Linked DNA regions of Homo sapiens. The protein of the gene in region 1 interacts with the protein of each later gene in a pairwise test. Each region holds a gene or a part of one and is shown on either strand. Other genes may lie near its edges.

Region 1 (3,500 bases):
CCTGAGGGCGAACCTGGCTCACTGCACTACCTGGGCTAGGTATATGACCTCCCCTCAGCCCAGCTCCCTGCTCTGTAAACTGCTGTTGGAGGCCCTGGGATGGAGAGCTGTCGGCCTTTTCAACAGATGGTGTGAACCCAGGCTCAGCCTGCAGAGCCCTTTAAGGTGGTGGCAACATGGAATGGTACCCCAGAGAACACGCGAGCTCTCTAGCCAGACAGATGCGAACTCAAGTCCTGCCCCTCTGGGCCTCTGTTTCCCTCTCCATGAAACGGTGATACTCACAGTCCCCACCCCATGGGTGACTGTGGGTAACAGCTGGACATGGGACAGATCCTCGAAGCTGGGGCTCAGGGAAGGCGAGACGATGTCGGGGCTGGTGTCACATGAGCCCGTGCTCTGTTCTGAGATGGCTCATAATGCACACAGGGATAAGGATTGTCATGCTGCTTATCCACATTCTCCTGTGCGGCCTCCCCACGGGGCACGGACTCCCGTCCTAGTGCCCACTCTGCCAGCTGCTGACAGGACCAGGCCAGCACCCTGACCCTGCCCCCACCCCAGGTTTCCCCAGACCCACTGCCCATTACAGCCTGGTCTCAGTATCAGGCCCCAAGGTGGCCTTCCAGAAGCCTGCCCTGGGTGGAGAGTGCTGACGTGCTCGGGAGCAGGAACCCTGCGTGACACTTACGGCTGAAGGCCTCTGGGTGCTGCCTGGCCAGTTTCCCTTTCAGCGTCCTGCAGGGGAGAGAAGGCACACAGGGCTTAACCTGCTGAGCAGGTAGGCTGGGCCTGGTGCTGGCCACAAGCCCCTGCTGCCAGCTGAGGGCAAGGGGAGACGGGAGTGAGAACCCCCACACTGTTCATCACCTCACATCTTCACTCTCTCTAGGTGCTCGGCCCAGCAGCCACGGCCCTGACAGTCGCCCACCAGCCGGCCTCCAGCCCCAAGGTAGGCACCAACCCCCAACTAGTTAGACTCTGGGTGCTCTGAGCCTAGGCACTGGCTGGGGGCTCCCCCTGCGAGGCTGCTTCTTACATGTGGCCTCTTCTCTGATAAATTTTTTTTTTTTTTTTGAGACAGAATCTCACTCTGTCGCCCAGGGTGGAGTGCAGTGGTGCCATCCTGGCTCACTGCAACCTCCACCTTCCGGATTCACATGATTGTCCTCCCTCAGCCTCCCAAGTAGCTGGGATTACAGGCACGTGCCACCATGCTCAGCTGATTTTTTTGTATTTTTAGTAGAGACGGGATTTCATCATGTTGGCCAGGCTGGTCTCAAACTTCTGACCTCAGGTGATCTGCCTGCGTCAGCCTCCCTAACTGCTGGGATTACAGGCATGAGCCACTGTGCCCAGCCATTCCTGCCTTTTCATTATGTGTCTAGCACTATGTTACTTTTTTTTTTTTTTTGAGACGGAGTCTCGCTCTGTCGCCCAGGCTTGAGTGCAGTGGCGCGATCTCGGCTCACCTCCTGGGTTCATGCCATTCTCCTGCCTCAGCCTCCCGAGTAGCTGGCAATACAGACGCCCACCACCACGCCCAGCTAATTTTTTGTATTTTTAGTATTTTTTGTATTTTTAGTAGAGACGGGGTTTCACCATGTTAGCCGGGATGGTCTTGATCTCCTGACCTCGTGATCCGCCTGCCTCGGCCTCCCAAAGTGCTGGGATTACAGGCATGGGCCACCTCGCCCAGCCGCACTGTGTTACATTTTTTAAGAATAAATAAACTGCAAGGCTGGGCATGATGGCTCATGCCTATAATCCCAGCACTTTGGGAGGTCGAGGTGGATGGATCATCTGAGGCCAGGACTTCGAGATGAGCCTGGCCAACATGGGGAAACCCTGTCTCTACTAAAAAAATACAAAAATTACACAAAATACAAAAATTAGGCTCACACCTGTAATCCCAACACTTTAGGAGGCCGAGGCAGGCAGAGTGCTGGAGCTCAGGAGTTTGAGACTAGCCTGGGCAACACGGTGAAATCTCGTCTCTACTAAAATACAAAAAATCAGCTGGGCGTGGCAGCATGCGCCTGTAGTCCCAGCTACTCAGGAGGCTGAAGCAGGAGAATCGCTTGAACCTGGGAGGCGGAGGTTGCAGTGAGCTGACATTGCACCACTGCACTCCAGCCTGGGCGACAGAGCAAGACTCCACCTCAAAAATAAAACAACAACAACAAAAATTAGCTGGGTGTGGTACAGTATGTCTGTAGACCCAGCTACTCAGAAGGCTGAAGCACAAGAATCGCTTGAATCCAGGAGGCAGAGGTTGCAGTGAGCCAAGATCACGCCACTGCACTCCAGCCAGGGCCACAGATCAAGACTCTGTCTCGGCCGGGCGCAGTGGCTCACGCCTGTAATCCCAGCACTTTGGGAGGCCAAGGCGGCTGGATCACGAGGTCAGGAGATCGAGACCATCCTGACTACTAACACGGTGAAACCCCATCTCCACTAAAAATACAAAAAATTCTCCAGGCGTGGTGGTAGGCACCTGTAATCCCAGCTACTCCGGAGACTGAGGCAGGAGAATGGCGTGAGCCCGGGAAGCGGAGCTTGCAGTGAGCTGAGGTCGCGCCACTGCACTCCAGCCTGGGCAACAGAGCGAGACTCCGTCTCCAAAAAAAAAAAAAAAACTCTGTCTCGATCAATTAATCAATCAGTAAATAAACTTACGTCAAGATTTTATCCCAGGGTTGGAATTGTCCCAGACACTTAAGTGCGCAGTGAAGCCTTGTAAAACAAACAGAAATCTCCCTTTACCCTGGTATGTGAAGGAAACTGAGGCTCAGATGGGGAGGTGGAGGCAGAGGTCAGCTGGGCTGGGGTGGCACTGAGCACCCACCTGATACGGCGGAAGATGCTGTCCAGGTCCCGTTTCATCTCTACTAGGGTCCTCGTGTGGTGCAGGAAGCGTTCGCTCATCTGCTGCAGGCGGGCACTGGACAGGTTGTTGAAGTTGAGCAGCATCTCATTGGTCTTCTCAAAGCGGTCCAGCCTGATGGTGGAGAGAGGGCATGAGCTTCACTGCCCAGCTTCAGGGCCCTGCCCAACCTGGCCCAGAAGACTGTTCATGCCAAGCCCTTGCCTGCTTCACAACCTTTGCATGGGCTGTTCCCTTGTCCTGCAGAGTTCTACCTACTCTTTGAGCCACCTAGCAAACTCCTATTCAACCTTCAAAACCCTACTCAAGTGTGTCCTTCTCATGTAGCCTTGTCTACCTCTATTCAGTCAGACTTTTTTTGAGACAGAGTCTTGCTTCGTCACCCAGGCTGGAGTGCAGTGGCGCGATCTCGGCTCACTGCAAGCTCCGTCTCCCAGGTTCATACCATTCTCCTGCCTCAGCCTCCCGAGTATAGCTGGGACTACAGGCGTCCGCCACCATGCCTGGCTAATTTTTTGTATTTTTAGTAGAGACGAGGTTTCACCAGGTTAGCCAGGATGGTCTCGATCTCCTGACCTCGTGATCCACCCACCTCGGCCTCCCAAAGTGCTGG
Region 2 (4,149 bases), on another chromosome or scaffold:
CCCTGCTTCTACAGGGCTGAAGTCCTCCCTCCAGGATGGGTTCACAAGGGCCTGAGACCCTCCCTTCCCAGGCCACAGAGGCCCACGAGGCCCTGCTGACATCGAGGAAGCTCGGTGCCCCAACCTTCAGGTAGAGCAGTAGAAAGGTTCAGAAACCACTCTGCCTGCACCGATGGGGTCCTCTGCACATGGCACCCCCAGAGAGCTCCACTTCCAGGAACAGGGAAGAGCAGGGCACGCCCTCCAGCCTGGGCGGATCCTGGCTCAGACGGCCTAGGTCTGACCCTAGCCCTGCTGAGTCACTTAACGCCCCCGTGCCTCAGTTTCTCCACTGGCAGGTGGGGTTAATCCCTGTCAAGTGTGTGTAACGTGGAGCACCGAAGAAACCACGCGTTCCTAGCCCAGTGCTGGCGCCCACCGGGGAGCAAACAAAAGGGAAACCACTGTGCCTGGCGGCTGGGGTAGGTCCTGCCGGCTCCTCGGGCTGGACGATCTCACTGTCCCCGTCCTGGGGCCTCATCTCCCCTTAACAAAAGACCCCAGGCTCAGGGCGCAGGGCGGCGGCCCAGCTCCTCCTCTCTCTTCGCCGGCTTGGACTCCGCCGTGACGGCGCCCACCCCTGCCTGTTTCTGCAGACCCTCTCCACCTTCCCGCAGCCCCGGCTGCTCCACGCCCCCTCCTACCAGCTGCGAGACACCAGCCCACGAGGGCGCGGGGCGCGCGGCCCGGCCGGAGATGGAGTCTGAGAACGGGCCCAACCTCAAAGGCACAGGGGGCGGCGCGGGGGCTGGCGTCTGGCCCTCACAGTGTCACGCGTGAGGTCGGGACGGAGCGTCCGCGCCTGCCTAGCCCCTGCCCTCCGGCCCTCACCTTCCGGAAGCCGGATCCAGCTCCTGCTCCCTCCATGACCGCAGCCTCAACGCGCGCCCACCGGAACCCCGCCCCGCGCCTCCAGCCAATGAGACCGGAGCGCGCCCCCGGAGCCCCGCCCCGCGCCCCTAGCCAATGAGTCCGAAGCGCCTGCTCTCGGAGCCCCGCCCCCACGTCTCAGCCAATGAGCCCGGAGCGCGCCCTCCAGCAGCCCCTCCCTCACGTCCCGCAGCCAATGAACTTGGAACGCGCCCTCCCGGGGCACCACCCTCACGACCCTCAGCCAATGAGCCCGGAGCATGCCCTCCCGGGGCCCCACCCTCATGCCCCTAGCCAATGAACCTGGAGCGCGCTGCCCCCTCTCAGCTTGCGGCCCGAAAGGCGCGCCAGTTCCTTTGTTCTCATTGGCCCGCACCAAGCGCTGCCTGCGCAGAGCCTGCTAGGAGTTGTAGTTCCCGCGGCCTCTCCCGGCGCGCCTTGTTCTTCCTGGATACTGAGGCCCCGACGCGGCTGTCGCGAGGGCGGGGGTCGGGGCTGCAGGCGGGGCAGGGCTGGGTGGGGGCGCGCGACGCACCTGCCTGCTTCCTGCACGGGTGGTCCCCAAGCACTGCGGGGCCCCAGCCCAAAGCGGACCTTGACTACCGCCCAGCCCCGCGCTCCCAGGACCTCCCGCCCGCGGAGCCCACTCGGATTGCTCTCCGCCCGGGTCGGCGGAGGCCCCGTCTCCTGTACCCGGCGCTGGGACTGCTCCGCACCGCGCGGCTCCCTTTCAGCAGCTGCGGGAGCATGCGGAGGAGGCCCTGCCGGCCCCGCGGGTCATGGAGGAGTTCCGGCGCTCCTACAGCCGCCTGTGCAGGGAGAGTGGGGCCGAGCCCCAGGAGGCTGTCCTGCAGCAGCTGCACCAGCTTCCCAGGGGCCGGCTGGACCTGGCCACGCAAAGCCTGACGGTGGAGACCTGCAGGGCCCTGGGCAAGCTGCTGCCGAGGGAGACGCTGTGCACGGAGCTGGTCCTGAGTGACTGCATGCTCAGCGAGGAAGGTGGGCAGGCGCGGCGGGGTGGATCCCTCTGCTCCTTAGCTGCCCACACCATTGCCTCGGCAGCCCGAGGTCGCTTCCTCTCCAGGCTCTCCAATTTCTGTGCCGTAGTTAAAGCGAGCAGGGGCGCCCCTTCCTGCACCTGGGAGTAGAGGGCAGTTCCTCTGTATGACGGGGGAGAGGCCTTAACATTCGCGGTCTTACCTGGTTCCCCGCGTGCAGAGCCGGCTTGGTGCCTGGCAGGGGCTGCAGGTGTTTCAAACATGACTTCGCAGCGAGACTCTTGGCCAGCGCCAACCCAGACCATCGGGACAGTTGTCCCTTCCTGGGTCTAGGGAGCTGCCCTGAAAAGGGGCCCACGGGGAGGGCCTTGGGGTCAGCAGGGGCAGAGAGTGACCGCCGGCCCCCCTTACACAGGGGCCACACTGCTGCTCCGAGGCCTGTGTGCCAACACCGTGCTGCGCTTTCTGGACTTAAAGGTGAGATACCTGCACTCTTGAGTGTCCGAGTGTGCCACCCAAGGGCAAGAGGAGAGGTGGAAGATGCCAGGTCTCGGGGGCCTGGGGTCTGGGCAGGTGGCTGGAAGCTGTCTGTGAGTCCCCAGGCCGCTCTCTGATGGCCTCCTGTGTGTGACCATCTCCAGAGCAAGAGTTCACATTGGCAAACAAGCCGGCCCTTGGAAGCCCCCTGAAGACAGGGAGCCCAGGAGCTGAGGAAGGCTGCAGGGTGCACCCCAGGCTTGTCCCCTGGCTGACCAAGGCCCTTGGGGCATGGGCGGGAATTCAGAGCCAGTCAGGGCACGCGAGTGACTACCGGCCTGTTTCTCTCCTAGGGCAACAACCTTCGGGCTGCAGGGGCCGAGGCTCTGGGAAAACTCCTCCAACAGAACAAGTCCATTCAGAGGTGGGTGGTGGTCCCGACCCCAGGCCCTGTCTCTGTGTGGTTGAGGATTGGCCCCGAGCACATGCTTCTGCAGCCCAAGAGTTCCCCATTGCCAGGTGCCCATGTTTCACATACGTTGGCAGGGGTAGGCAGAGGCTCCGGCCCATCAGACCCCAAGCCCACACCCGTCCCCAAGCCCTGGACCCCACGGGCTAGGCAGTCCCCTAGGTGAACACTGGCTTCTGCCCCTCCTGCAGCCTCACGCTGGAGTGGAACAGCCTGGGCACGTGGGACGATGCCTTCGCCACCTTCTGCGGGGGCCTGGCGGCCAACGGCGCCCTGCAGCGGCTGGACCTCCGCAACAACCAGATCAGTCACAAGGGCGCGGAGGAGCTGGCCCTAGCCCTGAAGGGCAACACCACCCTCCAGCAGCTGGGTGAGGCCTCCCAGGCGCCCTCAGGCTCCCTCATCCCTCTGAGGCTGCCTCTGCTCTGGGAAGTGAGGGGCTAGGGGACTGGCCTGTGCTCCTGCTCTGTTGATGACTGCAAGGCAGTGCCCCCTAGGGAAGCACCCCGGCCAGGCCAGCTCCCCCTCTGCCAGGTGCATTCTGTCTGGTGACTACAGGTTTCCTTCCAGACCTGCGCTGGAATAACGTTGGCCTCCTGGGGGGCCGGGCCCTCATGAACTGTCTCCCCAGCAACAGAACCCTGTGGAGACTGGACCTGGCTGGGAACAACATCCCTGGAGACGTCCTCAGAGCCGTGGGTACGGTGCAGGGCTGTGTGGAGTGACGCGTGAGCCTTTGACAGAGGCCTGTCCACCGAGGGCGGGGTGCCGGGCTCAGGACGGGAACTGATGAGGAGAGCAGCCTGAGAGCCCAGGGGAAGCAGGAAGGAGCGGAGGGGTCGTGGGGCACCTGTTTGGCACTTGAATGGCGTTCGCCACACATGGGCACTGTCCGAGGCGCCCTGTGTACTTGCTGAGTTCTTAGGACCTGTGCAGTGGAGGGTGCCCGTTTCACAGCTGGGGAAGCTGAGGCCGTGTGGCTCACAGTCCTGGCCTTGGTGGCTTTGCTGATGCTTCGGGTGGCCCAGGTCTTGGCCTTGGCCAGGAAGGCTCCCTGGTCACCCTGAGTCTGTGGCCCTGCATGTGAGTCAGGTGAGGTGGGGCCCCCTGGCTTGTGCTGGCCTCCACACATTCCCTCCCACCAGCGACCCCGAATCCTTGCAGCTGATGTCTCAGCCTCAGGCCCCAGTGCCCCAGACTCAGCTGGGGACTTTGCCAGGCCCCCCGTACTCCCTAATCCGCGCACAGCGGCAGCCTCTTCCAGCCCCTGTGCTGAGGGCTCATCCCTCCTGCTGG

Evidence for each region. The genes of interacting proteins can lie anywhere in the genome.
Region 2: the proteins of KXD1 (region 1) and LRRC45 interact in binary tests that used the Homo sapiens proteins (3 or more experiments, as listed by UniProt).

What each region holds. Positions count from the first base shown.
Region 1 is NC_000019.10:18,564,370-18,567,869, reverse strand, and holds part of KXD1 (kxDL motif-containing protein 1), read right to left. Parts: intron 3,002-3,500; coding exon 2,849-3,001; intron 2,737-2,848; coding exon of another isoform or gene 2,676-2,736; exon of another isoform or gene 2,661-2,675; intron 739-2,660; coding exon 692-738; intron 1-691.
Region 2 is NC_000017.11:82,021,956-82,026,104, forward strand, and holds the start of LRRC45 (leucine-rich repeat-containing protein 45), read left to right. Parts: upstream 1-1,349; 5' UTR 1,350-1,688; coding exon 1,689-1,908; intron 1,909-2,322; coding exon 2,323-2,384; intron 2,385-2,737; coding exon 2,738-2,808; intron 2,809-3,044; coding exon 3,045-3,223; intron 3,224-3,423; coding exon 3,424-3,552; intron 3,553-4,149. Other genes in the region: CENPX (centromere protein X), read right to left, coding at 871-906. UniProt on the Homo sapiens protein: Component of the proteinaceous fiber-like linker between two centrioles, required for centrosome cohesion.